Regions from separate parts of the Homo sapiens genome. Here region 1 is linked to region 2. Evidence: fine-mapped expression QTL. A gene starts in region 2. The other region holds a variant in brackets. All regions are shown on one strand. Distances are between the middles of the regions.

What was found.
Region 1: its variant is fine-mapped to the expression of NUDT7 in prefrontal cortex (BrainSeq, PIP 0.95).

Annotation. Positions count from the first base shown.
Region 1 is chr16:77,743,939-77,759,749 of GRCh38, reverse strand. It overlaps LOC107984878 (a long non-coding RNA gene), which reads left to right. Exons shown (of 6, transcript XR_002957866.2): 5 at 2,298-2,363. Among named protein-coding and RNA genes, the nearest start is that of NUDT7, 29 kb to the right of the region's middle. The variant A/T (reference allele first, on the strand shown) is at 6,299.
Region 2 is chr16:77,713,441-77,729,251 of GRCh38, reverse strand. It overlaps NUDT7 (nudix hydrolase 7), which reads right to left and starts at 6,738. Exons shown (of 4, transcript NM_001105663.3): 1 at 6,635-6,738; 2 at 3,668-3,821. The coding sequence starts at 6,669. RefSeq lists a silencer at 6,763-6,892 and an enhancer at 6,606-6,900.

The sequences.
Region 1 (15,811 bases), 30 kb before region 2:
TCTATTCTAGAGAATGTTCCATGTACAGGTGAAAAGAACGTGTATTCTGCAGCATTTGAGTAAAATGTTCTGTAAATATCAGTTAGGCCTACTAGATGGAGTGTGTAGTTTAACTCTACTGTTTTCTTTGTTGATTTTCAGTGTGCACAGAGTTTTAAGGACACAAATCAGATGGGCATGAGTGAAGTGCCCAGGATGGACCTATGTTCATCCCACCAATGATTCAGTGCCCCTCCTGGTCAGGTGTCCAGAGGCCTCACACTTTTATTATGTCCATTATTCCCAGCAACCCTGCAGAGTAGGCATCCTAATGCTTGTTTGACAGATAAGGACATGGAGGCCTAGAGGATTAATGGCTTTGGCCACACCCACATGGGACTAGAATTGTGTAACTCCAACATATGTGGGTTACTTTTTTTTTTTTTTTTAACTTTACTACCTTTTCGAAATCATGGATAATATACATGTGCTATGGGGCTTTGCAGAAAGATTAGTGATCCCAGCTAAATGGAGATTTTCATCCTCCAATGAAACATGCTCATATTACCAGGGACAGAAATTGGACTTGCTAAACCTAGGCTGAAAAGGAACCAGAGTTTTTATCAGGGCATCTTCTTAGGGAAAGTGACAGCCCAAACGCTCAGAAGGCAGAGTGAGCCCTGCGCAGACAAGAGGGCTGAGAGGGTGGAGAAGGAAGGGCCTTGCCTCCCTGTTGGTGGTAGAGAGGATGTAGAGGAAGGTGCATGAGTATGAATCAGCCCTGTAAGAGACCCCACAGGGTCAGATCAGAGAAGCTAAGGGCAGTCAGCAAATCCAAGGAGCAAGGAAAAGGCAAAAATAGGAGGAGAAATTAAGACTAGTTCCAGATCCAGGACTAGATCCAAAACCAGAGACTAGATCCAATGCCAGGACTAGATCCAAATCCAGGACTGGATCCAGAACGGGGACTAGATCCAGAATGGGGACTAGATCCAGATCCAGAGACTAGATTTGGATCCAGAGACTAGATCCAGACCAGGACTAGATCCAGAACCAGGACTAGGTCCAGATCCAGCACTAGATTCAGAACCAGGACTAGACTGAGAACCAGGACTAGATCGAAATCCAGGACTAGATCTAGATCCAGAGACTAGATCCAGAACCAGGACTAGATCCAGAGCCAGGACTAGATCTAGAAGCAAGACTAGATCCAGATCCAGAGACTAGATCCAGAACTAGGACTAGATTCAGATCCAGAGACTAGCTCCAAATCCAGGACTAGATCTAGATCCAGAGACTAGATACAGATCTATAACTACAGAGGGACAGCAATGGTATCAAGAGCCAAACATCAGCCACAAAGGGAGCCACATCCTTTATCCATCGCCAGCTATGCAGCCTTGGCAGGTCTCTTCTTCTGCTGCCTGAGAATGGTTACACTGATGCTGAGTGGCGGTGAGGAATGGAACGAATCTACACAAGGCTTCGGTCATTCTATGCTGTGATGAAAGTGACCAATTCTCTTAGAATCACAGTGTCTGCTATTGTTCTTTATGAGTTAGTGGACTTATGGTCCCAGATGGAACAAAGTGACCTGACATACGAGTTTGCCACAGAGTTCCTGCAGCTTCTGAATGAACAAGCCCTATATTAGCAAGCTTTTTCTTGGTATTGTTTGGGTTATAGTTTTATGGCATAGAAGATAAAGAGAAATCTTTGCATTTTTTCTAAATTATTGAAGATCATCAGAGGTTAGGAGGAGAAAGGAAAAGTAAACTTTGGGTAGCAAGTTTTAATCTTTTTTTTTTTTTTTTTTTTTTTGAGACACAGTCTCGCTCTGTTGCCCAGGCTGGAGTGCAGTGGTGCGGTCTCGGGTCACTGCAACCTCCAACTCCTGGGTTCTTGCCATTCTCCTGCCTCAGCCTCCCGGGTAGCTGGGACTACAGGCACCTGCCACCACGCCCGGCTAATTTTTTGTATTTTTAGTAGAGATGGGGTTTCACCATGTTAGCCAGGATGGTCTCGATCTCCTGACCTTGTGATCTGCCCGCATTGGCCACCCAAAGTGCTGGGATTACAGGCGTGAGCCACCGCGCCCAGCTGGAGGATTGTTTTTATGGAAGTGCTGGTAGGGGTGGGATGCATTCTTTCCTTTGGACTTTAAACTTGTGAACAGAATTCTATAATCCAGGTGTTTTGGGTATTGTTTCTAAAAATACTTTGGCCCCTTAATGATTTAATTTTTATTGATCAACTTTAGGGTAATGGAGGATAACCCAATAAATTAATAACATATTGCATGGTTCATTTCTCATTAGCTCATCCAAGATCAACTGCAGAGGAGGACGAGGGAAATTTTATATGGGAACAATTATCTGAAAAATGTGAGTATCTCAAGATAATCTGATTGCTTAGTTTTAGCTAACCCTGAGGTCTAAATACTTACAGCCAAGAGAATTTATCTGATGAGTTTAGTCCAAGAAACACAACTTTATTTTCCCACTACTAGCTGAATATAAGTGTCAATTTAAGAGTGCTACATGCCCTACAAACATCGATCGCCTCATGTTCCAAATGAAAAAGTTCATTAGTGAGCTTCTCTCCTGATGTGTTATTATTAACTGGAAGCTAAAATTAATGAATTTTGTCGGATTGCCTCAAGTAGTGATAGGGAATGATAGAATTCTTCAGCAGTCGATTTCTATTCTATCATCTGCTTAGTTTTGTTGTTGTTGTTGTTTTCTTTTCTTTTCTTTTCTTTTTTTTTTTTTTGAGGAGTCTTGCTCTGTTGCCCAGGCTCTGGAGTGCAATGGTGCAATCTCGGCTCACTGCAAGCTCTGACTCCAGGGTTCACGCCATTCTCCTGTCTCAGCCTCCCGAGTAGCTGGGACTACCGGTGCCTGCCACCACGCCTGGCTAATTTTTTGTATTTTTAGTAGAGACAGGGTTTCGCCGTGTTAGCCAGGATTGTCTGGATCTCCTGACCTTGTGATCCACCCGCCTCGGCCTCCCAAAGTGCTGGGATTACAGGCATGAGCCACGCGCCCGGCCTTTTTTTTTTTTTTTAAATAAATGTCACTCATAGGGGTCTTCTGAACTTAGTATGGCCTGGAAATCTCAGGGCACAATGGATAAATTGCATTATATTTCTCCACTGCTGTAAATGTATTTGATATTGGGGTTCCTTTGGTTGCAAGAGACAGAGATCCAGTTCAGACATGCTTAACAAATCATGTTATCCACACACATAACTTGGAAATTCACTGATGATCAATAGCCAAAGGCAATATGAAAACATGCTGTATAGATGAAAAACACAGCTACCACCAAGCCCTTAACACATCTGATTTCTCTTCTTTTGGTCTTTCATGGGAAATGTAACATTAGTGGGGCTGGAATATAGGTTCTGTAATAGCAATCCTCACTTAAGTAGCCTTGTGTTCTTGGGCAAGCATTGAAATTCACCAAATCTTTCACTGTACAACAGAGCTTGCCATTCTAGTCTGGCACATAGGATTATAAGGACAAGTAAACAAGAAGCCAAGTGACAGAACTCTATGAATATATGTAATCGTCCATTTCATTTGTTCTTTGGGTCCTTTTAGACCCAACTGTTTCTAGTAGAAGTGGGTGTGGAAGAGGAAGCCATGGAGAAATAGTTGCCTACTCAATGTGGGCAGAGAATGAAGGTTTTCAAAATCGACAAGTCCCATGAAACGACGCACTCTTAGTGTTGTACTGAAAATCTGCAGAATGAGAGACACATGTCTTCTGAATATGATGGCTCAGACTATTTCTTATTTATAATATTTTCCCAAATAATTTCTCATATTTTTCTGTAATTTAAATCCATATTTTCAGGTCAGGATGCTTGTGATCGTTTAGTGGACTTGAAATTTTGCACAATGATGAACGATTTTTTTCCTGTCTTGATAAGCAAGTCATAGGGGATGGTCTGGGGAGATACATCAAAATTGTTTAATACAAGCACGTGTTTAGAACCTCAGAGCCCTACAGAGGCTTCCTACGTTTATCTGTATGAAGATCTCTGTTTTCTCCCCTGAGGCTGCACATAGGAACTGCTAAAGCAGTACAAGAAATACCAGCCACCGCAGTCTATCTTATATAATGATTTCCCTTTCAGTCTCAGGTTCTTCTGCCCAGACTCAGCTTGTTATCCCAGGCTTTATTCCTTTCAGGTTGATTTTACCCAAGGGGACTTGTGCTTCTGGCATCTTGTTTATAGCGGGATACCCTACAAAGCTCCAACATGCCTGCGCATGGCTGGACTCCAATGCTGGCAAGTTGCAATGTTCTTCCTGGTACATGGCTCAGCCCCCATGTGAATCGGTTAAAGAAAATAGATACCCAAGAGAGGGAGCAGCCACAGCCTCACATATCTTCCTTACATTTAGAAAACTTTCTCAAACTTCTCAGAGTGTTTTATATGTGGCCATTTTTTACTGCAGGTGTGAATATAGTAAACTGGGGTTAGAGGGGTGATGTTATGGCGCACGCAAGCAATGGACTTGGAGGGAGAACGAAAGGGAAGGAAGATGGTCTCGCAGCCATGAATATTCTACTAAAGTGTGGCCTGGGCAGCTAAACTGATGTACTCCAAAGATGTGCCAACGATGGCCTCCCTCTGATCACCTTAGGTGAATTCAGTCCCTGAAAATTCTAGTTTCAGAATTTGAATTTTTGCTTTCTATCTTTTTTAATTTAGGGATTAGGTTTTTTGTTTTGAGGGGATTTTGTGTTTTTAAGTTAAAAAAAAAAACTCCTCATACTCAGACATTCCAAGTCCTTATATTTTATATCCTTTCAAAACTTTGTTTTTAAAATTACTTTTATGGATTATTAAAGCAGTGTGTACACATTGTAGAAAAATTAGGAAAAAAGCCCCCCAAAAATAAAAACTACCAAAAAACAAAGAATGTAAGTGATAATTATAATCCCAACCTCCTCCCTGAGAAGACAATTTTTAACACCTCTATGAATATCCTTACAAATAGAGAAGTATGGATAAAACTGACAAAAATGAAATCATATATATCTTTCTATAATTTACCATAATTTATTTAAACCATTTACAACTTGTTTGGTGTCTAGGTTGCCTTCAATTTTTCCTAATGTATACAAATATAAAGCTGGACTAATTAGCTGAGAATAAATTAGACAATCTTTAAAATAGAAAAAAATGAATAATTCTAAAACATAATTAAATATGCATGAATAGTACTAAAATTAGCCCATGATGAAACAAATCATCAGTATTAAAAAATAATACAAATTAAAGTAGCAGTGCTTGGGAATTTTATTTTTACCTAATCATTACTGTGATTTCATTCTTGTATTGACCTACTTCTTGGCAATAAAATGACCTTGACCATCTAGTTTTCAGCCAAATTAATTCATTCATCCACTCAGTACTTATTTATTGAATTCCTAATGGAAAATAAAATATAATTGAAAGTCCCCACACTCACAGAGCTTGTGTTCTAGTGTGAGAGATAGGAAAAAAAACCAAGTATGTACCCAAAAAATACCAGATATGGAAGTAAAATATGGGTGCATGAGAGAGAATGACATCAGCGTTAGACTCTTCCAGGAAACGACAGGTGTAGTGAGAACTGATGATAAAACAAGTGCCATCCATGCAAAAACCAGGGTGAAGACAATTGCTGGGAGAGGGGCATCTAGTGCAAGAGCACTATGGTGGGGGCAAGCATAGCGTTTCCAACAGGAGAAAGAAGCACAAGCTGAAGGAAGTTCAGTGGCCAAGATCAAGAAGGGTCAGAAGTAGGCGGAGTCCACAATGTGCCAGTTTTGTCAACCAAAGACAAAGGTTGAACTTTATTACAGGCACAGGTGGGTAAGCGCACTAACCCACGCCTGCAATCCCAGCACTTTGGGAGCCAGATGAGAGAGGATCATTTGAGGGCAGCCTGGGCAACATAGCAAGACCTTGTCTCTACCAGAAATGAAAAATAAAGAAAGAAAAAAATAAAGTCAGTCACAGTTGGACGACACTAGAAGGTTTTAGGCCAAGAAACGGCATGACTTTATTCATGACTTCAAAAGATCACTCTGGATGTTGGGTGAAGAAGGGCATATAAGGAGCAAGAATAGGTGCAGGGGAGGTAAGGGGTTGAGGGGGATGATGAGTCTGGGACCAGGTGCTACAGGTGGAAAGGGGGACAGGATGCATTTAGGGTGTGAATCAGAAGCAGAATGAACAAACTTGCTGATGAAGTGCAGGGAGCAAAGAGGGAGAAAAACAAACTGAAGCATAACGCCTCTGGGACTACTAAGAAGA[A/T]TTATTTTGTCTGGTGAGTGTTTTTGGACAAATAGCATAACATGTTTGGGCACCTATTATAATATAAAGCATAGTACAAAAATTGTTTCTGATAATAATAATTGTACTTTCCACTTATTAAGTACATGCTATGTACTTAATGCTGATCTCTTTTTTTCTTATTGAACATAGAGGGGATAAAAATATGTACGTTGAATTAAATACTATTCCTCTCATCTCACTTATTAAATTACCAAATAACCCATGTTTTCCATATGGCCTTTGCCCGTTTGAGGATTGCATTGCCAAGGAAACAGATTGTTAAGCACAGGCTCTGCAGGTAAATCCTATTAAATATGTCATAATTCAAACAAAATGCACAAAGCCAACTAGGCTTGGGTTTGGAATATTAGCTTCCAAATGTCCCCCTCCTAAGGCCTAACTATATACTTAATAAGGTTCAACGTTTAGATGCCTGTCTAATTCTACCCAGAGCCCTGGACTTGTACATTCCTGACCCAAATCCCTGATCTGAATGTCAGAATTTTTAATTAACCTCCCCAAATGGCATTTTCACATAATAAACTCTATGCATGCTGCTAGCTTCGAACAGTAGACAAAAAGTGATCCTTTTCTTTTCCTCAGTCAGATTTTTCCTTTGTAAAACATTAAGCAGAATGGCTTCATTACCTGGATATGCTTAAATGAGGCTGGGGAAAACCCAGAATTGGAGATTTCAAAAGGAAAAGGAATTAGAGATTAACTAGTTCCAATCCGCTTTATACGTAAGGAACCTGAGGTTCAGCAAGATTGTGATTTCTGTCTGCAAGGTTACAGAGCATATTTATGGACAGTACTAGGGGCAATGCCTACCTCCCCTGGCTGGTGATGTCTTCCTTTGTCTCAGGGTTCTTCCATTCACCACCCTCCTCCTAAAAGTCATCCTTGTTGTTCCTTCAGTATAAATTCTTCATTTCCTCCTCCCTCACCTACGTCCTTTGCTCCCCAGTCGTCTCTTCTGGCCCTCATGGCCTTAGCTCTACCTTTCTTCTGCTCATTTCCTAAATGCAGCTTATTCCTCCAAGTCCCACTCCTGATCTTATCATTCACCCCCCTCACTGCAACTCAGGCTCAGGCTCATCAAGCTCGTTACTGGATCAATGAATTCACCCACCAAATGTGTTTTGCACAGCATGTTTTTTTCAATTCAGTGCCCATGGCTTTTGCTAGAAGGCTGTCCTCATTTGACCCTTGTCATTTCATTAAAAAATATCCAGTGGAGTGAGAAAAAAGTGTAATTGAAACCAATGTACCACAAATAAACTCTTCTTATTTAGGAAAATTCACTGCTGAGCTTATTGAATGTGGAAGGTGGGTCCTAGTGGGCATGAGATGCATGGAGCCAAATAGACACCATCCTCTGAAAAGGAAATGAATGTCATTTTGGTGGTGGGAGCAAAGAGAAAAGCAAAAAGGAAGAACAAGCATGTGGAGGAATACAGCATCAGCCTGATACCCAACTTGGTAGAATGGACAGGACTTTTAAAGAACAAGAAAAACATAATATTCAAATTTAAGTTTGGCTCTCTTATGTTGCAATCAAAGTTTACCTGGCTGATATCCCTGTGTCTCCAATTAAAGCCACTCAATGATTTACATACAAGTTACTTTAGGAAAAACAAGGAGAAGCAGTCTCTGTCCTGGATTTGGGTTGGCACTAAGGAAAAAGACCTCAAGATGCAGAATACAGAACTAACATTCACTGAAGCTGGAAATTGAACCTAAGGTGATTAGAAGAAAGGTACTCTCTGAAGGATTTGAATAAATCTTGGGGAGAATATCGAGCTTTCCACTGGAATTACAATGGGGATTTAAGGCAAGTTTTTGTAGATATGAAGGGGCATGGGTCCTAAATATATGGCTAGCATTGAGGCTAGAAGGGTAAAGAAGAGCTAAGTCTGCTCCTCTGGTAGTTCATAGTACATCAAGACAGCTAGGTATGGAAATAACTAAGTTACAAGGCAAAAACTGGTTAAAGATAGGAGCCACTCACTCATGTCCACTCTGGTAGAGCACTTTATATACCTTATACAGTAAATGCAGGAGGGGGTGATTTACAACAATGCTAGACCACCTTAGGTTGACCTTTGTCAAGCAGTCTGTTGGGAAGAGACTGAATTTTCCTTAGCCCACTGAATTAGCTATTTGAGTAGAAATAGCTACTTCTCATTTAGTTGTACTCTTTTATTTAACAAATATCCATTGAGCACCTACTCTTTACCCAGTGTTGTGCCAAGTGCTAAGAGTACTCTTGTGTATGGACCAAAATTGAGACATGACTGTGCCATTATGGAAGTTGAAGTCCAGAGAATGAGGGGACATCAATCAAAGAATCAAGGGGATATCATATTGTAACTATGACAGGAGTTATGAAGTAGAGGTACATGGCACCAAGAGAGCTTATAACAAGGAGAACTAACCTAGCTAAGGTGTCAGAGAAGGCATCCTTCAACAATAAGTATGAGGTAACCAGGCAAAGGGAAATGATTGAGGGATCAGCTTGTGCAAGAGTTCTGAGGCACCCATGGACTGAAACTGAGCCTCTACAGGCCAGTGCTGTAGGAGTGGATGAGCAGGGAGGGGGCTCATGGTACTACACATAACCAGATAGGTAGACAGGAGCCAGGACACGGCCTTGTAAGAGCCATCCATCTTTTTCATAAAAAACAATGGGAAGCCATTTGAGTGCCTCAAGAAAATATGATGATATTTATATTGAAAAATAACTCTGGCTATAGAAGAGAGATGGTGCAGGGTAATAGTTACCAGATAGATGCAAAAGTTTTCAGACGTTTATGACAGCTTTAACTAAGTTGATGTCGGTAGAGATGAGAAGAACTAGATTTGATAGATATTCAGAAGATAAATTCAGTACGATTTGGCGACGGATTAGATATAGGAGTGTCTTAATTTGGTTTACCTAGAAACCTAAAGACAAGATTCAAGTTATTTATTTGGAATCTACAGGGCACATTGTTATGGGAGTGGAGAAATGAGACAAAGAAGGGAAGGCAGCCAATGAAAAGAAGTGTGAAACTTGCCACCACAGCGGGCACCCAGAGTTTAGTTCAGTTTGGGAGCAAGTACAGAACACCTGTCTCAGAATTATCCCACCCAAGGGGCAAAGAACCTGAGCTACTGATATGCAAAATCCCATCAGTCATTGGTTGAGGGTTAATGTAGGGGACATTAATTCCCTGTCACTTCCAGCTGGCCTGCTGTGGCTTTGGAAAAAGCCTGCAGGAACACAGATGCAAATGTTGGCTGTTGGAAGTGATCTGGAGCTCACTGCAATGGTAGGGTCCTAAGGATGTGGGTAGGACACAGACTGTATCTGTACATGGGGTGATCATTACTTCTCCAGTGTCCTAGTGTCCTGGCCACACATGAGTCATCTAGAGCCACTCTGTCCAGTAGAAATATACTGTAAGCCATGTATGTAAATTTAAATTTTCTAGTAGCCACATTCAAAAAAGTACTAAGAAACAGGATAAATTAATTTTCACCCTATATTTAACCCAACATCTCTAAAACATTATCATTTCACCATGTAGCCAATAGTAAGTCTTTGAAATCCAGTGTGTATTTGACTCCTACAGCATCTCAATTTGGACTAGCCACATTACAGGTGCTCTGTAGCCAGGGGTGTCTTGTGACAGCTTCACAGTTATCTCATGGGCTAGCCCAGACCCAAAGGCTTCTCCAGGAATGTTGATTCAGACTTTGATACATTTGCTTTAGCTTCTGTTTACTGGACCAACAAAGAAGAGGTGCAAAGGACACATATGTTATCAAAGACATCAGTGAGTTGACTTGGGTCTCCATTGTCCCTCTTTGTTCCTTATAGAACCTAAAGGCAGTCTATAGAGGAGTCATGGGGGCAACTGTGGTGGGGGAGAGGTGAGAAGAGCCAAGCAAGCAGTAATCTGTCCCCCTCACATACTTAACTGTCAGAGCAGTTTTACTTCTATATGTGGCAGGCAGGCCAGGCATGGCGGCTTATGCTTGTAATACTAGCACTTTGGAAGGCTCAGGTGGGAGGATTGCTTGGAGCCAGGAGTTTGAGACCAGCCTTTGCAACATAGCAGGACCTTGTTTCTATTTATAAAATAAAATATAATAAACATGATGTGGCAGACAATGAGTTTCCCATCATCCTCTTCCTTGTTAGCCGGGTCTGCCTCTCACAGTGGAGGAGAAAATGTCAGATGCCTATTTTCCTAATTTTTCTTGCAATTAGCATATGGGCTTAATCTGTCCAATGGGTCATATAGCTAGTGATGAGAGGAGACTGGGTTTTCTGTCTTCAGTCTTTCCTACCATACCATATTGCACTTCCAGAAGACTCTACATGTGGATAGGTCCATTCTAAGTTAAGAAAGAATAGAACCTAAGGTCCCCATAGTGTAAAAGGGTGTGAGAAAAGAGAAAAGAGAAGGATATAAAGACGTGTGTTTGTGATATGTTAGGACATTTTCCAGTGAAAGTTATAGAACTCTTTCTAAGCTTGCTCAAGCACGTTAGGGAATTTAACTACGAAGGGTGGGAGCATTTCATGGAAACCATGGAAACATCCGGGTCTCAAGAACAAACATCCAGGGATTCTAATGCCTTCACAACACACGACTGACTTTCATTGCTCTTCCATTCTGGTCATTGACTTTGTTCTCCTCTCTTGTTGCAGACAAGCTTTCTCTGCTTCCCAGGGCAAATGGTGGAACACAAACACCCACATATGCTCTCTTCCGGAGGGCAGGCAGACAGACTCTGCTGTTGCTTGGTACTAATCCCAAGGGAATTACTGAGGGACTAAATCTGATTAACTGAGTTTATGCTGGGAGGTCAGCAATGTCCTGTTTCCATGGTAATCCCAAGACAGAGGGCAGAGCTATTTCTCAAAATGAAGAGATGTTTCAGAAGGGGGCTGTGTAGTTTCCTAGGGCTGTCCTAACAATTTGCCACAAACTTGGTAGCTTAAAACAACCGAAATTTGTTATCTCACGGTTCTGAAGGCCAGAAATCTGAAATCAAGGCGTTGGCAGCATCACCCTCCCTCCAAAGGCTGTGGGGAGGACCCTTCCTTTCCTCTTCCAGCTTCCGGTGGCTCCTGGTGTTCCTTGGCTCGCGGCAACATAACTCTAATCTCTGCCTCTGTCTTCACATGGCTTCTTCCCTGTGTCTCTTGCAACTGTGTGTCTCAAATTTCCCTCTTTTTTTATTTATAAAGACACCAGTCATTGGATTTAGGGATTACCGTAAATCTAGGATGATCTCATTTCAAGGTCTTTAACTTAACTACCTCTGCAAAGATCTTATTTCCAAATAAGCTCACATTCACAGGCATTGGAGTTAGGATTTGGACATATCTTTTCGGGACCACTATTCAATTCACTACAGGGGGCTAAGATGGGTTAATATATGTTTGTAACAGGTTGAGAGTTCTAGCAAAATGTTCCCACTATCTTCAGTTTATCATTTAGCCTGATATTAGACCATACAGATTTATAGTCAGAAAAAATAACGTAGGCAAATTTTCAGAATGCTGTTTGGGATCCGTGAAATATAGCTGAAACTGAAGGCTGATGGAAGAAGATGAAATGAGACTAGAGTGAAGAAACACGTGAAGAAAGTGAGGAGAAGAAAATAATCGGAAGGAAAACTTCAAGTTTCACATAAATGATAAGTGAAAAAGAGAAAAAAATTGACACAGAGATGTCATTGACATCCATGATGAAGTAGAGAGTAAGGGCTTGAAGATTTAAAATGAAAATTGAGGAAAGTTATAGTTGAGGAAATATTAAACCAAGTCTACACCTATAAAATTAAAATTTATGGGCTTGAGTATGAGATCTTTAAGAAGGATAAATTGCTTCAGGAAATATTCTTCTTCCAGTTGTATCTGATGAAATCCCTGACACGACAACTACTGCTTAGAGCAAAGACATATTTCTACCATTATTGGCCAACTAACTTTAAACTCTGACTTCTTGGGCTCACTCATCAGTATGTACATGGGCCAAAATATTTCCCAAGCATATGTTACCTTCTGGCATTGCTCAAAGTTTTTTGAAAATCGAATGGACTTTAGATCCGGTATTTAAGTAGATCATACAAGTCATAAGCCACTGAATTAGGGGCCACCTATGGGTTTGCCATTGATCCTTGGTCCATTCATTTGAGGATAGGGGAACTCAGAGTGAGGGGTCTTATGGTGCATGGATCTGTCCCTTCCAGGGTTAGGTCTGGAATAAACACAGAGATACACATGTATTATACAGATATGCAAAGGAATGCAATGAAGTGGTGTCCATGCTATTAACATAAAGTAAGGGGTAGTTGAAGAAGTGTGCATGGAGAAATTGGCTCATAAATTCTGAGTTGTGTTCAATGTGGCGTGGCCCAGGGAGGTGGCTGAGTGGGGATGGGAGGGCAATGAAAAATTCTTAACAGGCCGGGTGCAGTGGCTCACTCCTGTAATCCCAGTACTTTGGGAGGCCGAGATGGTAGGATCACTTGAGGTCAGGAGTTTGAGGCCAGCCTGGCCAGCATGATGCAACCCCGTCTCTACTAAAAATACAAAAATTAGCCAGGCATCATGGCACGCACCTGTAATCCCAGCTACTCAGGAGGCTGAGACAGGAGAATTGCTTGAACCCAGGAGGTGGAAGTTGGAGTGTCCCAGCATCAAGCCACTGCACTGCAGCCTGGGCAACAGAGCAAGCTCCATCTCAAATAAATAAATAAATAAATAAATAATTTAAAAAAATCTTAATTGGGTATACACACAGGTCCCATTAGGAACCACACCAAGTATGTCACATCTGAGACAACTGGACTGGGAGATGATCACTCTAGCAATTTTAACAAAACTTCATGCTATTCTCAAATACGAAAGCAACTGTTAACAAGAATGAACAGTTGAATAATATCTAATCATCCTGTCTAAGAGGTGGAGGAACGTTTTCCCTTCTCAGTCCTTTAACTGGAAAGCTGGCACCATGAACAAGTTGTTAAATTAGCAAGTATGCCAGCACTTTCATTTATTAATTGGTATGTTCCATTTTAATCAAAATCATCCTGGCTAATTACTCATTTCACTGTGTGCAGCACCAGCTGAATAAGCTGGAGGACATGATGAAGGAAAAAATAAATGCTGTACTCTCTCTAGTTTATTAACTTGGAATTGTTTTCCCTTTCATATGTGGTGACTCAAGGGAGACGTAAATTTAACCTTCTATTCTTGCCTCATCTTCAAGTATGTGGTTATAGCAGAAAGAGTATGGGCTATGAAACTCAGGCATGTGGGTTTGGATGTTGGCTTTGCCATTTATGAACTGTGTGACAATGAGGAAAAAACTAGCATCTCTGATCTTCAAGGTCTCCTATCTAAAAATAGGAGTAATAATAGCATGTACTCACTACAAAGAGTTGATGTGAGGGTCAATGAAATAAAATGAAAGACTGGGTACATAATAGATAAATGTTAGTCTAACTCTGAACTAGAGAAATAACAATGATTATTGTTATTGTTATGATATAATGTTACAGTTATAATAGTACCATAATTAGTAGCCAACTGGTAACTGGGCACTTATTTCCCAGGCACTGTTCTGAGCACTTTGGTATGCTTTAAGTAAAGAGGTCACATGTGTTAACTCATTTAATCCCTGACAGCCCTAAAACAGAATTTATTTCTCCTACATTACAGAAGAGGAAACTGCGATCTACAGAGAAGGAATAACTTGCCCAAGGTCACAGAATAGGCTGACACTGGAGCTGAGGTTCAAAGCTAGGCATCCAGACTCAGCACTCTTAACCGCTTTTTAAACATTTTTTATTTATACTTATTTATTTATTTTGAGACGGTGTCTCGCTCTATCACCAGGCTGGAGTGCAGTGGTGTGATCTTGGCTTACTGCAACCTCTGCCTCCCGGGTTCAAGTATTTCTCCTGCCTCAGCCTCCCAAGTAGCTGGGACCACAGGTGCGTGCCACCATGCCTGGCTAGATTTTGTATTTTTAGTAGAGATGGGATTTCACCATGTTGGCTAGGATGGTCTCCATCTCTTGACCTCGTGATCCACTGGCTTAGGCCTCCCAAAGTGCTGGGATTACAGGTGTGAGCCACCGCACCTGGCCATCTTAACCACTTCTTTACCAAGATTGCAGGGTTGCAAAGAAGACAGAGTTGAGCTGTCTGAATGGCAGAATCTAGAGCATTTATAAAATCTAGGGACTGGAGAGATTAGATGTTTTGGGATGTCCATCTAGTCCCCACTTAGCCCTTGCCTTTGAACATATTTTTGGGTTCCTGGAAACCTTCCAGGTGACCCATGTTAGGCCAGATAGAATTGGGGACTGAGGCACTGAGTGTCTGTTGTTTTTCTATGTCGGTGTCAATCAATTCAAGATGTTTCTTGTAGCAATAATGACAGGATACAAAAGAAAAGGTTCACATCCTTCTGGCTTTGAGGTAGTTAGCTGTGTTTGTTCCTTACTGCCTTTTTTTTTTTCTTTGACACAGTCTCACTCTGTCGAGTAGACTGGAGTACAGTGGCACAATCTCGGCTCACTGCAACCTCTGCCTCCCAGGTTCAAGCAATTCTGCCTCAGCCTCCCAAATAGCTGGGATTACAGGTGTGCACCACCACACCTGGCTAATTTTGTATTTTTGGTAGAGATGGATTTCACCATTCTGGCCAGGCTGGTCTTGAGCTCCTGACTTCAAGTGATCCACCCGCCTCAGCCTCCCCGAATGGTGGGATTACAGGCATGAGCCACTGCGCCCCGCTGTCCTTCTTGAAGCTGATTTATTCAGTGGCTTCAGAGAGTCCCTGAGATCCGTACCTTGCCAATAACTTATTTTATTTGAGCCAGATATATTTAACTAAGACTCTGAACATAGATACTATAAAATACACCACTAAGAAGGAAGGGGGCAATACCTCCTTTGCTAAGCATCCAGCCCCATAAATTGTGTGGCCATGGGTGTGCTCAGATTGACTTCAGCTGGACCAGGCAGATCTGGGAGAGTTCACATAAACAAACAGTTTGGAAGGGAGGCTTTCTGCACTGTCGGAGAGGTCAACCATCTACCCGGCAATTATACTGCTGTCAGATTGTAAATACACATTTGCAAATGCTTCTGTAATTGTTCGGAAATAGTTCAGGCCTGTTCATGCAGGGCTGGTTACAGAATGTTAATGGGGTAACGTACCCAACATCTGCTTTCATGGTTGGAACCAGATCTCTGCCATTTAAACATATATGGGTATAAAGCAGCCAATCAGGTATTTGCCTTTGCCAACTCTCAGAAAAGAAAAACTCAGCCGCAATGGACAGTCACATGGCTGATTGATAGGTTTGGTGTGGGCATCACATTTTCAACTATAACAAAGTCTTATTAAACATGGTTTGGCTCTCTAAAAAGCTAATAACAACAATAAGATGTGAAATCGCCATCACAGAATTGTGG
Region 2 (15,811 bases):
AATCTATTTAATTTTGTTTTTAAAAAAGAAAATATTACGCTGTTTTGAAGAAAACAGGCACATTTCTAAAACTGACTAATCAAAAACTATTAGCACTGCAAAGGGCTCTAAGCACAAAAGCGGTCAGTTATTTTTTTGATAAATAGTATACATTTCTTATTCAATAAAACCTTCTGAAATGCTACTCAGAGGCCAAGTAAAGCTGCAGCCTAATTTCCTAAGACTTCAATCTTTGCTTTGTTCCTGAATTTTCTCTTGCCTACTTCCAGTCCCAGAGAATGGGGTGCAGGGAGGAGGGTGGAGGAGGGTAGAAGAGGGGACAGAGGAGGGATGCGAGGTCAAGGGTGTGGGGGAGAAGAGCAGGACCGATAATGCAGAGCAGCTAATTCCTGAAAACTATAAAGTGGGTGGCTTTGAAGGCCTGAAGGGCTGTGCCCAGGTGTGCAATGGAGAAAGGGGTTTGCCAGCTCTTTGCTGGGCACCAGGGATCTAGGGTTCTGAGAGGAGTCCCTTATCCAAGGTGGACCCGGACAAGGAGATAACGAAAACATAGGTAGCATCCAACAGCATGCAGCACTATGGCATGCCAGCAGCCGTGCTGGGCGTTTTACAGATCTCTTTCAGGCTCAGAACAACCTTGCACATGAGGCGCTGTTTTCAGGCCCATTTTAGGGATGAGAAAACCGAGGTGATTAAGAGATTTACGAACTTTGCAGGCTGGGCGTGGTGGCACACGCTTGTCATCTCAGCACTTTGGGAGGCCAAGATGGGCAGATCACCTGAGATCAGGAGGTCAAGATCAGCCTGGCCAACCAACATGGTGAAACTCCCTCTCTACTAAAAATACAAAAATTAGCCAGGCGTGGTGGCGTGCACCTGTAATCCCAGCTAATTGGGAGGCTGAGGTGGGAGAATTGCTTGAACCCAAGAGGCGGAGGTTGCAGTGAGCTGAGATCACGCCACTGCACTCCAGCCTGGGCGACAGAGCGAGAATCCTTCTGAAAAAAAAGAAAAACTTGTTCGAGGTTCCAGAGCTAGTGGGAGATTGCACATTTGAGAAGGGTTAACCCACTTCTTGCCTTGCTTTCCCCATCCACTGGGGGGAAATCTCCTACCAGCGCCCTGCTTGTGTGAGGGGCAGAGCTCCAGTAGAGCTCCAGAGGGAATTTCTCACCCCTACAGCCAGATAGTGTTTACAATCAGATTGAATTAAATTTAAATAGTTTTTAAAAAGTGACCTTAATAATCAACAGGCAAAAGTGGCTCTGGGTGAAACAAAAGAAACTAGAGACCCCGTTGGTTGAGTTTGTAGTATTGTCTAGATTTCCTATATTATTGTTTGTTAGACAATTCTCTTTTATTTATTTATTTATTTTTATTTATTTATTCATTATTGAGATGGAGTCTTGCTCTGTTGCCCAGGCTGGAGTGCAGTGGCACGATCTCGGCTCAATGCAACCTCCACCTCCCAGGTTCAAGTGATTCTCCCTGCCTCAGCCTCCCCAGTAGCTGGGATTACAGGCACCCACCACCACGCCTGGCTAATTTTTTGTATTTTTAGTAGAGACAGGGTTTCGCCATGTTGGCCAGACTGGTCTCGAACTCCTGACCTCAGGTGATCCGCCCACCTCAGCCTCCCAAAGTGCTGGGATTACAGGCGTGAGCCACCGCACACGGCCATATCTGATAATTTTAAAAAATATATGTAAGTGCTTCTCCTGTGCTTATTGGCAGAGGTGGGAACAGACACTGGTCCCCTGGTTTCCATTTAAGTATTTCCCCCTGGAACCTGGATTTCTATCATGTCCTGAGTTCACGGCATTTCTGCCTGGCTCAGACCGAACACAATCCACACAAGTCTACTTCCACGTCCACAAAACTCCAGCTGATTCCTTGGCATTTTTTTTTTAAACAAAATACTTTTCATTATTCTGCTTAAAAAGCCTGTTAATATGGCTTATTTTCTTTTTGTACTTGGATAAGCTTAAAATGACTGCTTCACCAGCTTTTCCTTGGAAGTTCCCCACAGCAAGGGAAACTGACTGTGCTCACGGGTGTGGGGGTGGTAGAGTTTCGATATTTGTCCTTGCCCAAATCTCATGTTGAACTGGAGTCCCCAGTGTTGGAGGTGGGGTCTGGTTGGAGGTGACTGGATCACAGGGGCAGATTTCTCACGCATGGTTTAGCACCATCATCTTGGCACTGTCCCCATGATAGTGAGTGAGTTCTCATGAGATCCGGGGCCATTTAAAAGTGTGTGGTATTTCCCTGCTCTCTCTCTTGCTCCTGCTCCCCCTCTGCCATGATGGTACACTCCCTGAGGCCTTTCCAGAAACTGAGCAGATGCCTGTGTCATGCTTCCTGTACAGCCTGCAGAACCATGACTCAATGAAACCTCTTTTCTTTATAAATTACCCAGACTCAGATATTTCTTTTTCTTTCTTTCTTTCTTTTTTTGAGATGGAGTCTCGCTGTTCCTCAGGCTGGAGCGCAGTGGCACAATCTCGGCTCACTGCAACCTCCGCCTCCTGGTTTCAAGTGTTTCTCCTGCCTCAGCCTCCTGAGTAGCTGGGATTACAGGTGTGTGCCACCATGCCTGGCTAATTCTTTTGTATTTTTAGTAGAGATGGGGTTTCACTATGTTGGTCAGGCTTGTCTCGAACTGCTGACCTCGTGATCCTCCCACCTTGGCCTCTCAAAGTGCTGGGATTACATGCTTGAGCCACCATACCCAGCCTCAGGTATTTCGTTATAGCAATGCAAGAATGGACCAATACAAGGGGTGAGCCAGAAACTCCATTCCCAGCCCATTATTTCTGTAAAGTGACATCATTTATCTTAAAACTTCAGGTCATGTCTGACAGGTCACTTGACACTAACGATGACAGCTAAAACTTACTGAATTCTTCCTTGCCAAGTACCTGGGTTATATAGGTGCTTTACATTTGTTACCCTGTGAAATGTTCATAGCAGCTGTATGAAGCAGTTACTAATATTTTGTCCTCATTTTACAAGTGAAAAGACTGAAGTACAGAGAGGGCAAGTAACGAGGCCAAAGTCACAGCTGGCAAGGAGAGAGCCTGGATTCAACGTGGACAGCTAGCTTTAGAGCCTAGGCCGTTAACTTCTATGCTCTAGTATTTTCACATTATACTGGGGGTGGGATAGTCTAAAACAGTGGCCCTTGGTGGGGGGCAATTTGGCACCCCCAATCCTGCCAGGATAGTAGGCAATTCTGAAGACATTTGTGGTGTGTGTGCTACTGGCATACTGGACAAAGGGACAAAGGTGTGTGTGAGCTTGTGTTTGTGTGTGCTACTGGCATCTGGTGGGTAGAGGCCAAGGATGATGGTAAACACACCACATTATACAGGACAGCCTCCACACCAAAGAATTATTCAGCCCCAAATGCCAATAGCACCAAGGTTAGGTAACCCTAGTGTGAAAGCGTTTTAAACTGCTTGCTAGCTAAATTCCTTCATTTTCTTGTTAAACCTTCTCCAAGAAACACCATGTTATCCTGTGGCTTGTGGTTGTATGCCTCTGACATCACAATTTTGAAAGCCCTTTTGAGAATTTTGGCATCAAAGTGTGTGCAAGTGACAAAATCTCGTGAGGTCTTCTGATGTCCTGAGGTTTAAGGGCAGGAAATTTTTTGTCCACCTACCTTCTCTGACCGGACGGTGAACAACAAATGGAGTTTTCCTTCTTTAGCCACCAATGGCAAAAGGACGGAGTATTTGTTATATGGCAAGTGAGAATATTTGCCTCCAATATCATACTTTCTTAAGCGGGCCTTAGCATCATCTAGCAAACTGTTTCTAAAATAAAAACAAACCAGACAGACATTTTAGCAAGCAGAGTTATGGTAAAAAGCTTATAGTCCTGCCTCTGTTTCTGCTTTGTTGTGTATTTAGGAGTTTGCCATTTCTGACTCTCTGTGTATTTTTCAATAACACGACAGAAATGATACTATCTAAATTGCGTGGTTGTTCGCAAGATGAAAATGACAAAAAAACCTTCTAAGCACACAGTTTAGTACACAGGTTCTCTTTGAAACATAAAGTATGGTAAAATGTTTTTTCAATAATGCAACAGTTGAATTTTGAAACCCATAATTATATTCAGAGAAGACAGGTTTGATGAAAAAGTCATTGTTAAGGTTAGAAGGTTAGAAGACTACCTTCTGTTAAGCTGGCCCTTATGTTCTCAAACTCTTATGTCTTCAACTGCTTATAATAGTGGTTCCCAAGCTTTAGCAGCAACAGAATCACCTGGAGCGCTGGCTGTCACATAGACTGCGAGGTTCAGTCCCAGACTGTGACTCAGTAACTCTGGTGTAGGGCCTGAGAATTAGCATTTGTATCAAACTCCCTCATGACAGCGTTACTGACGCTGTGGACAGGGGAACACATTCTGAGAACAATTTCCCAATAATATGCAAGCATTTGGATTTAAAACCGCAAATGGTGCCCTTCCTATGTGGACTTGTTTTGGTCCTTTTGACAGGTGTGTTCTACTGCTAGTTTGTATAGTGGGTTGAACAGTATCCCCTCACCCCTGAAATTCATGTCTACCCCAAACTTCAGAGTGTGACTTTATTCAGAAATAGGATCTTTTCAGATGTAATTAAAGTGAGCTCTAAATCCAATGACTGTTGTCCTGATAAGAAGCAGAAACGAGCCCAGTGCAGCGGCTCACGCCTGTAATCCCAACACTGGGAGGTTGAGGCGGGAGAATTGCTTGGGCCCAGGAGTTTGAAACCAGCCTGGTCAACATGGTAAGACCCTGTCTCTACAAAAGAAAAAAAAAAAAAGCATAAATTAGCTTAGGCATGGGGCATGCAACTGTATTCCCAGCTACTTGGAAGGCGGAAGTGGGAGGATCACTTGAGCCCCAGAGTTCAAGGCTGCAGTGAGCCATGATTGCACCACTGCACTCCGGCCTGGGTGACAGAGTGAGACCTGACTCAAAAATAAAATAAAATAAAAGAAGAAAAAACATGGAGAGATGCACACAGGGAAGAAGACCATGTGAAGATGGCGGCAGAGGTTGAAGTGATGCTGCTGTGAGCCAAGGAATGCCAGAAACCACCAGAAACTGGAAGAGGCAAGGAAAGGTCACCCCCAGAGCCTTCTAAGGGAGTGAGGCCCTGCCGATACCTTGATTTTGGACTTCCAGGCTTCATAGCCATGAGAGACCATTTCTATTGTTTTAAAACACCCAGTGTGTGGTACTCTGTTATGGCAGCCCTAGAAAAGGAACAGCTGATTTTACTTTTTCTGTGGGAAGGCAGCTTTGCATAGTGGGCAGAATCAGCTATTTAAGATACCCAGAATTGGCTTCAAATGTATATAGGAGGCCTGGTACAGTGGCTCATGCCTGTAATCCCGGCACTTTGGGAGACTGAGGAAGGTGAATCACTTGAAGTCAGGAGTTCGAGACCAGCCTGGCCAACATGGTAAAACCCCACCTCTACTAAACATACAAAAATTAGCCGGGCATCGTGGCACATGCCTGTAATCCCAGCTACTCAGAAGGTTGAGGCAGGAGAATCGCTTGAACCCAGGAGGCAGAGGCTGCAGTGAGCCGAGATTGCCTACTGCACTGTAGCCAGGGCGGCAGAGTGAGACTCTGTCTCAAAAAAAAAAAAAAAAAAGTGTATACAAATGACTTCTCTGAGTTTCATCTTCATTTGTGTCAGGCTTGAGGATATTTAAGAAGATTAAATGATGCAGTTCATATACTGTGGCTGGCACACAGCTGGTGCTCAGGGAATGGTAACCACTGTCATAAATCTCCCCATCATTAGATAAGCAGTTGTTTGCAGGAGGTATTTGCTATTTTTTGCCTCTTTCTAGGTGGCAGGGTGCTCACCAGATGTGGTTGGGTAACGGCAGTGTATTTCAAAGACCAAATGGCCTGAAAAAAATCAGTGAATGCTGGCACAGGGATTGCACAGTGCATCTGGATGCACGCAGGCCAGCCTCCAGAAAAGGAAACTGTGGGCTGGTGGCTTTTAACCACCCGGAAACCACAGAACTGACCAGACAAACCAGCCAAAGTAAAAGGCTGCAAAAACGTTATCTGTCCACTTTAGGGGCTGGCCGCTGGAATAATCACCAAGGTATCAACAGCAGTAGCAGCCACCCCGTTCTGAGCATGGTCTCAATTTTGACGTTTCTCATTTTATCCTCACAACAGCCCGGCAAGTGATCACAGGGTCACCTCCAGGCTCAGAGAGTTTACGAAACTGACAGACCCAAGGTCACAACTGAAAGTAGCCACCGGGGGACTTGAATCCGGGGCTGCCTGCTGCGGGTCTGTGCCACTGTCGGGGGTCCTGGGGTCCAACTCTGGAGACGCGGATTGCAGAACAGCCAAGCCGGCTGGGAAGGGGAGCAGCGTGTATGTAAACCATACTGGCTTAAGCCGGCTCTGTTCCTGGCCAGAGCAGTGCAAAGGTTCGGGGACCCTGCGGGTTGCTGGAGGCGAGTGCTCCCCCATCCGGCGCTCGCAGGTGGACTGGCGGGAGCTGCAAAATCAGTCCCGGCCAAAAGGCCCCGGTGGCCTCCGCTACGATCAAGGCCGGGCCTGACCAAGCTCGGGGTGCCAGGGCCCGGAAAGCCTTTACCTGACTGGCTCCTCGGGAAGACCAAGTCGTGACATTGCCCTGGGGAATGTTTGTTTCCGGGCGGACTCCTCGGAGCTGCTCGGTCGGTCGCGCTTGCGCAGAGCAGCTCTGGGCTTGGGAGCGGCCTAAAGCCAGAGAGAGGGGCGGGGCTTAGAGCACGAGGCGGGGTGGTGTCTGGGGCGGAGACAGGGGGCGGGGCGGTGCGAGATCTGGGATCGGAGGCCGGGATCGGGGCGGGGCGGGGCTTATAGCCAGAGGCGGGACTTGAGGTGGGGAGAGGCGCGGGGCGGGACTTAGGGCCGGGTGTTCCTGGTTGCTCAAAGCAGTTTCTGCCGGGCTCCTTGGGCTTCTATGGAAGCAAGAGGTATAGGAGGAGTTGTGGAATTTAGAGCTGGAAGAGTTAAAAAAAAAAAAAATACAGTGTTGGTGAGGTGATAATATTTTACACTCGCATTCGCTGTTGCTGGAAGGTTAAGGTGATTCATTCAACTTTTTGGAACTGCTGTCAGCACCTGTTCACCGACCACCTGTATGCACTGGGTGCAGATCCCACAGCTAGCGAAAAGACACGTGGAGCTCACAGTCAAATGGTAGAAACATAAATTAATCACACAGGGCTGGATGCAGTGGCATATGCTTGTAATTCCAACACTTTGGGAGGCCAAGAGGGGAGGATCACTTGAATCCAGGAGTTCGAGCCCAGCCTGGGCAACATGGCGAAACCCCATCTCTACAAAATAAAAATAAAAAATTAGCCAGGCGTGGTGGCACACACCTGTGGTCCCAGCTACTCAAGAGGCTGAGGTGGGAGGATCGCTTGAGCCCAGGAGGTCGAAGCTGCAGTGAGCCGTGATAGCACCACTGCACTCCAGCCTGACAGAGGTAGACCGTCTCAAAAATAAGAAGAAGAAGATAAGAAGTTTTTAATGCAAAAAAAAAAAAAAAAAAAAATCACACTGATAAAGCAGTGGCCTTTGGTCCTTCTAGAGCGTGTGAAGGAGAAATGTGACCCAATTAGGAGACAGAAGAGGCTTGGTAGAGGAAATAGAAGTGCAGCTCATCTTGAAAGCAGTAGTTCTCAAAGTGTGGTCCTCAGACCAGCAGAATCAGGATCACTTTGGTCCTGTTAAAAATGTGGACTCTGGGCCAGGCGCTGTGGCTCACACCTGTAATCCCAGCACTTTGGGAGGCCAAGTCGGGTGGATCACCTAAGGTCAGGAGTTTGAGACCAGCTTGGCCAACATGGTGAAACCCCATCTCTACTAAAAAAACAAAAATTAGCCAGTGGCAGGCGCCTGTAATCTCAGCTACTAGGAGGCTGAGGCAGGAGAATCGCTTGAACCTGGGAGGCGGAGTTTGCAGTGGGCCGAGATCGCGCCATTGCACTCCAGCCTGGGCAAAAAAAAGCGAAACTCTGTCTCAAAAACAAAACAAAACAAAACAACAACAACAACAACAACAAAAACCAAGAAAGAAAGAAAGGAAAGAAAGAAAAGAGAAAAGAAAAGAAAAGAAAAAAGACGAAAAGAAAAGAAAAGAAAAGAAAAGGTGGACTTTGGGGCCCATGTCACAACTGCTGAATCAGAAGCCAGGTGTCAGGCCCAGTGATCTGTGCTGTAAGGGGATTCTGATGCTCTGTGCGGGATAGAGGACATAAATGAGGAAAAAGGCAAGGGAGAGTGTTCAAGGAAGAGGGCAAAGTTTGTGCAAAGACAGCAGAAAGGGGCTGGAGAACAGTGTGTGTGAGGGAGCCTGGTGCGAGCTGAGAATCCAGGGGTCAGTGTAGGGCTGACTTCTCCCTTACAGGCACAGGACACACACAGTAATTTTAGGGACCTGTGAAAATGTTTTAATTGTAATTTCTTTTTAAATTAGAAGAAGAAAAGGTATGTAATAAAAGCAATATATAATAATGAATCCAGCTTGGATGATAGTCATTTTATGAATTCAGTCATAAAATATTCACTTTAAAATTATTTTATGGAAGAAGGGGTGCACAAAAACAAAGTAGCTAGGGCCCATGAAAGTAATATTGTGGCTGGCCCTAGGTCAGTGGGGCAGTTTGTGAAATTATTAATGAAATGAAATATTAATGAAATATCGCTGTGATATTTACAACATCCAGTGTTTACACACCGTGACATCAATGAAATATCGATGTGATATTTATAATATCCAGTGTTTACACACTGTGATATTAATAAAATATGGCTGATATTTGTAATATACAATGTTTACACACCGTGATATTAATATAATATCGCTGTGATATTTATAATACCCAGTGTTTCCACACTGTGATATCAATGAAATGTCTCTGTGATATTTGTAATATCAAGTGTTGATGCACCATAACATCAATGAAATATCACAGATATTTACAACATCCAGTGTTTACACACCATGACCTCAATGAAATATCAATATGATATTTATAATATCCAGTGTGTACACACCGTGATATTAATAAAATATGGCTGTGATATTTGTAATATACAGTGTTTACACACCGTGATATTAAGCAAACATCGCTGTGATATTTATAGTATCCAGTGTTTACACATCGTGATATAAATGAAATATCGCTGTGATGTTTATAATATCCAAGGTTTACAAACTGTGATACCGATGAAACATCGCTGTGATATTTATAATACCCGATGTTTACACAAAGTGTTTACACACTATGATGTTAAATATCGTTGTGATTTTTATAATATCCCGTGTGAAATTAATGAAATATCACTGTGACACTCATAATATCCAGTGTTTACACAGTGCTTACACGCTGTTACGTTAATGAAATATCACTGTGATATTCATAATATCCAGTATTTACACACAGTGCTTACGCACTGTGACATTAACGAAATATCGCTGTGATATTCATAATATCCAGTGTTTCCACACAGTGCTTACACACTGCGATATTAATAAAATATCGCTATGATATTCATAATATCCAGTGTTTGCACACAGTGCTTACACACTGTGACATTAATGAAATATCGCTGTGATTTTCATAATATCCATTGTTTACACACAGTGTTTGCACACCGTGATATTAATGAAATGTTGTGATATTTCTAATATCCAGTGTTCACACATAGTGTTTACACGCCATGATATTAATGAAATATCGATGCAATATTTATAATATCTAGTGTTTACACATCATGATATTAAGGAAATATCGGTGTTATATTTATAATATCCAGTGTTTACACACCGTGATACTAATGAAATATCGCTGTGATATTCATAATATCCAGTGTTTACACACAGTGCTTACACACTGTGACATCACTGAAATATTGCTGTGATATTTACGATATCCTGTGTTTACACACTCTGATATTAGTGAAATATCACTGTGATATTGACAACATCCAGAGTTTATACACTGTGATATCAGTGAAATATCGCTGTGATATTTACAATATCCAGTGTTTACACACTGTAATATCAGTGAAATATTGCTGTGATATTTACAGTATCAAGTTTACACACTGTGATACCAGCAAAATATTGCTCTGATATTTACAATATCCTGTGATTACACACTGGTTACACACTGTGATATCGGCGAAATATCACTGTGATATTTACAATTTCCAGTGGTTACACACTGTGATATTGGCAAAACATCGCTGTGATATTTCCAATATCCACTAGTAACACGTTGTGATATTGGTGAAACATCACTGTGATATTTACAATACCCAGTGGTTACACACTGTGATATCAGCGAAATATCGCTGTGATATTTATAATATCCAGTGTTTACACACAGGGCTTACATGCTGTGATATTAAAGAAATATCGCTCTAATATTTATAATATCCGGTGGTTACACACTGTGATACTAGTGAAATATCACCCTGATAATTATCATCTCCAGTGGTTACACACTGTAATACTGGTGAAATATCATTCTGATATGTATAATATCCAGTGTTTACACAAAGTGTTTACACGCTGTGATACTAGTGAAATACCGCTCTGATACTTATAGTATCCAGTGTTTACACACAGTAATACTAGGGAAATTTCGGTCTGATATTTATAGTGTCCACTTTTTACACACTGTGATACAAGGGAAATTTCGCTCTGATATTTGTAATATCTAGTGTTTATACACTGCGACATTAGTAAAATTTCTCTCTGATATTACTAATATCCAGTATTTACATACTGAGACATTAGTGAAATTTCACCCTGATATTTATAATATACAGCGTTTACACACTGTAACATTAGTGAAATATCGCTCTGATATTTATAATATCCAGAGTTTACACACAGGGTTTACACACTGTGACACTAGTGAAATATCAGTCTGATACATATAATTTCCAGTGTTTACACAAAGTGTTTACACACTGTGATACTAGGAAAATTTGACTCTGATATTTATAGTATCCAGGGCTTACACACTGTGATACAAGGAAAATTTTGTTCTGATATTTATAGTATCCAGGGTTTACACACTGTGATACTAGGAAAATTTTGTTCTGATATTTATAGTGTCCAGGGTTTACACACTGTGATACTGGGGAAATTTAGCTCTGATATTTATAAAATCCAGGGTTTACACACTGTGATACCAGGGAATTTTCGGTCTCATATTTAGAGTATCCAGGATTTACACATTGTGATACTAGGGAAATTTTGCACTGATATTTATAGTATCCACGATGTACACACTGTGATTTTAGGGAAATTTCGCTCTGATATTTATTGTATCCAGGGTTTACAAACTGTGATATTAATGAATATTGCTCTGATGAGGATACATGTAATATCCAGGGTTTACACGCTGTGATATTAATGAAATATCGCTCTGATGATAATAATTGTAATATCCAGTGTTTACACACTGTAGTATTCATGAAATATTGCTCTGATGATACTTGTAATATCCAATATTGACACACTATGATATTAACAAAATATCACTCTGATGATACTTGTAATATCCAGTGTTTACACACAGTGATATATATGAAATATCAGTGTGATGATATTTACAATATCCACTGTTTACACACTGTGATATTAATGAAATATTTCTCTGATGGTATTTATAATATTCAGGGTTTACACACAGTGATATTAATGAAATATCTCTCTGATGATGTTTATAATATTCAGTGAGTGAAATATCACTCTGATATTTATAATATCCGGTGTTTACACACTGTGATATTAATGAAATATGGCTCTGATATTTATAATATCCAGTGTTTACACACTGTGATATTAATGAAATATTGCTCTGAGATGTATAATATTCAGTATTCACACACTGTGATAGTAATGAAATATGGCTCTGATATTTATAATATCCAGTGTTTACACACTGTGATAGTAATAAAATATCGCCATGATATTTATAATGGCAGTGGTGTACACACTGTGATGTTTATGAAATATCGCTCTGATAATTATAACATCCAGTGCTTATACACTAAAATATTAATGAAATGTCACTCTGATATTTATAATATTCAGTGTTTAGACACAGTGTTTACACACTGGGATATTAATGACATCTTGCTCTAATATTTATCATATCCAGTGTTTAGACACAGTGTTTACACACTATGATATTAATGAAATATCACTGTGATATTTATAATATTCAGTGTTTACACACTATTGATATTAATGAAATATCGCTCTGATATTTATATTATTCAGTGTTTACACACTGTGATATTAAAGAAATGTCACTCTGATATTTGTAATATCAGTGTTTACACAGTGTTTAAACACGTTGATAATAATGAAATATGACTCTGATATTTATAACATCAAGTGTTTACACACTGTAATAGTAATGAAATATCCCCCTCATATTTAAAATATCCAGTGTTTACACACTGTGATATTTATAAAATATTGCTCCGATATTTATAATATCAGTGTTTGCACACACTGTTTACACACTGTTATATTAATGAAATATCACTCTAATACTTATCATATCCAGTATTTACACTCAGTGATTACAAACCATGATATTAATGAAATATTGCTCTCATATTTATAACATACTGTGTTAACACAATGTTTACACACTGTGATATTAATGAAATATCACTCTGATATTTATAATATCCAATGTTTACACACGGCTTCCATGTTATTATGAATAATATCACAGGGTGTACACCCACTGTGATATTAGCCATTATATCAAAGATATTATAAATAATATCACAGTGGATGTACAACCAGGGTGTACACCCATTGGGATATCAGCAGTAAAATCTAAAATATTAGGAGTAACATCACAGGATGTACACCAAGTGTGATAGCAGTACTGTGATATTAGCAGTAATATAAAAGATATAAATAACATCACAGGGTATACACCCATTGTGATATTAGCAGTAATGTCGAATATATTAATACTATCACAGGGGGTACACTCACTGTGATGGTGGCGGTGATATTGAAGGTATAATGAATAATATCACAGGGTGTACACGAACTCTGATATTAGTGGTAATATTGAATATATTATGAACAATATCACAGGGTGTACACCTACTGTGATATTAGTGGTAATATGAAAATGTTATGAATAATATCACGGAGTATACACACAGAGTGTACACCCACTGCGATATTAGCAGCAATATCGAAGATATTATGAATATTTTCACAGTGTGTACACTCAGGGTGTACATCCACTGTGATATTAGCTGTAATATCGAAAATATTATGAATAATATCACGGAGTATGCACACAGGGTGTACACCCACTGTGATTTTAGTGGCAATATCAAAGATATTATGAATATTTTAACAGTGTTTACACACAAGGTGTACATCCACTGCAATATTAGCTGTAATATCGAAAATATTATGAATAATATCACAGGGTGTACACACAGTGAGTACGCCCACTGTGATATTGGGAGTAACCTCTTGAAGAAGATATTAAACATAATATCACAGGGTGGACACACAGGGTGTACCACCCCTGTGCTACTAGTAGGATTTCTCTAAGAAGATGTTAGGCATAATATCTCAGGAAAGGTACACATGGGGGATACACCCCCTGTAATATTAGCAGTAATCTCTCGAAGAAGATATTAGGCATGATATCAGAGGGGATTACAAACAAGGTGTACCCACGCTGTGATATTAACAGTAATCCCTCAAGATATTAGGCATAATATCACAGGGTGTACACCCACTATGTGATACAAGCAGTAATGTCTCAAGGATATTGTGCACAATATAACAGGGTGTACACCCAGAGTGTACACCCACTGTGACAGTAGCAGAAATATCTCTAGGATATTACGCATAATCTCACAAGGTGTACACTCAGGGTGTACACCAACTGTGACAGTAGCAGAAGTATCTCGAATATATTGTGCATAAATTTACAAGGTGTACACAAAGGGTGTACAACCACTGTGAAAGTAGCAAAAATATCTCGAGGATATTATTCATAATCTCACAGGCTGTACACCCACTGTGATATTAGCAGAAAGAGCGTGAGGATATCATGTGTAATATCACAGAGTGTACACGCGTAATATCAATGTACACCCACTGTGATGGATATTAGCGGAAAGATCATGAGAATATCATGCATAATATCACAGGGTGTCCACACAGGGTGTAAACCCACGGTGATACTAGCAGAAAGATAGGGAGTATATCATGCTTAAGACCACAGGGTGTAAACACAGGATGTACACCCACTGTGACTGATATTAGCGGAAAGATAGCAAAAATATCATGCATAATATCACAGAATATACACACAGGGTGTACACCCGCTATGATAGTAACAGAAAGATCCCCAGGATATCATGCATAATATCATAGGGTGAACACCCACTGTGATAGTAGCAGAAAGATCGCGAGGATATCATGCATAGTATCGCAAGGTGTGCATCCAGGGTGTACACCTACTGTGATGTTAGCGGAAAGGTCGCGAGAATGTCATGCATAGCATCGCAAGGTGTGCACATAGGGTGTACACTCACTGTGATATTAGCAGGAAGGTCACGAGGATGTCATGAATAGTATCGCAGGGTGTGCAAACAGGGTGTACACCTACTGTGATATCAGTAGAAAGGTAGGGAAAATGTCATGCATAATATCGCAGGATGTGAACACAGGGTGTACATTCCCTGTGATATTAGCAGAAAGATCGCGAGGATATCACGTATATAATATCACAGGCTGTACAGCCACTGTGATGTTAGCAGAAAGATTGGGAGGATATTATACATGATATTATACATGATATTATACATGATATTATACATGATAATATCACATGTATAATATCACATGGTGTAAAGCCACTGTGATATTAGCAGAAAGATCGCGAGAATATCATGTATAATATCACATGATGTAAAGCCACTGTGATATTAGCAGAAAGATCGGGAGGATATCATGTATAATATCACATGGTGTAAAGCCACTGTGATATTAGCAGAAAGATCGCGAGAATATCATGTATAATATCACATGGTGTAAAGCCACTGTGATATTAGCAGAAAGATCGCGAGAATATCATGTATAATATCACATGGTGTAAAGCCACTGTGATATTAGCAGAAAGATCGGGAGGATATCATGTATAAGATCACATGGTGTAAAGCCACTGTGATATTAGCAGAAAGATCGGGAGGATATCATGTATAATATCACATGGTATAAAGCCACTGTGATATTAGCAGAAAGATCGGGAGGATATCATGTATAATATCACATGGTGTAAAGCCACTGTGATATTAGCAGAAAGATCGGGAGGATATCATGTATAAGATCACATGGTGTAACGCAGGGTGTAACAGTCACTGTGATATTAGCAGAAAGATCGCGAGAATATCATGTCTAATATCACATGGTGTAAAGCCCCTGTGATATTAGCAGAAAGATCGGGAGGATATCATGCATAGTATTGCAGGGTGCGCACCCAGGGCATACACCCACTGTGATATTAGCGGAAAGGTCGCAACGATGTCATGAATAATATCGCAGCGTGTGCACACAGGGTGTACACCCACTGTGATATTAGCAGAAAGGTTGTCAGGATGCCATAGTTAATATCGCAGGTGTACACTTACTGTGACATTAGCAAAAAGATCGTGAGGATACTATGCATAAATATGCATAATATCACAGATTATACAC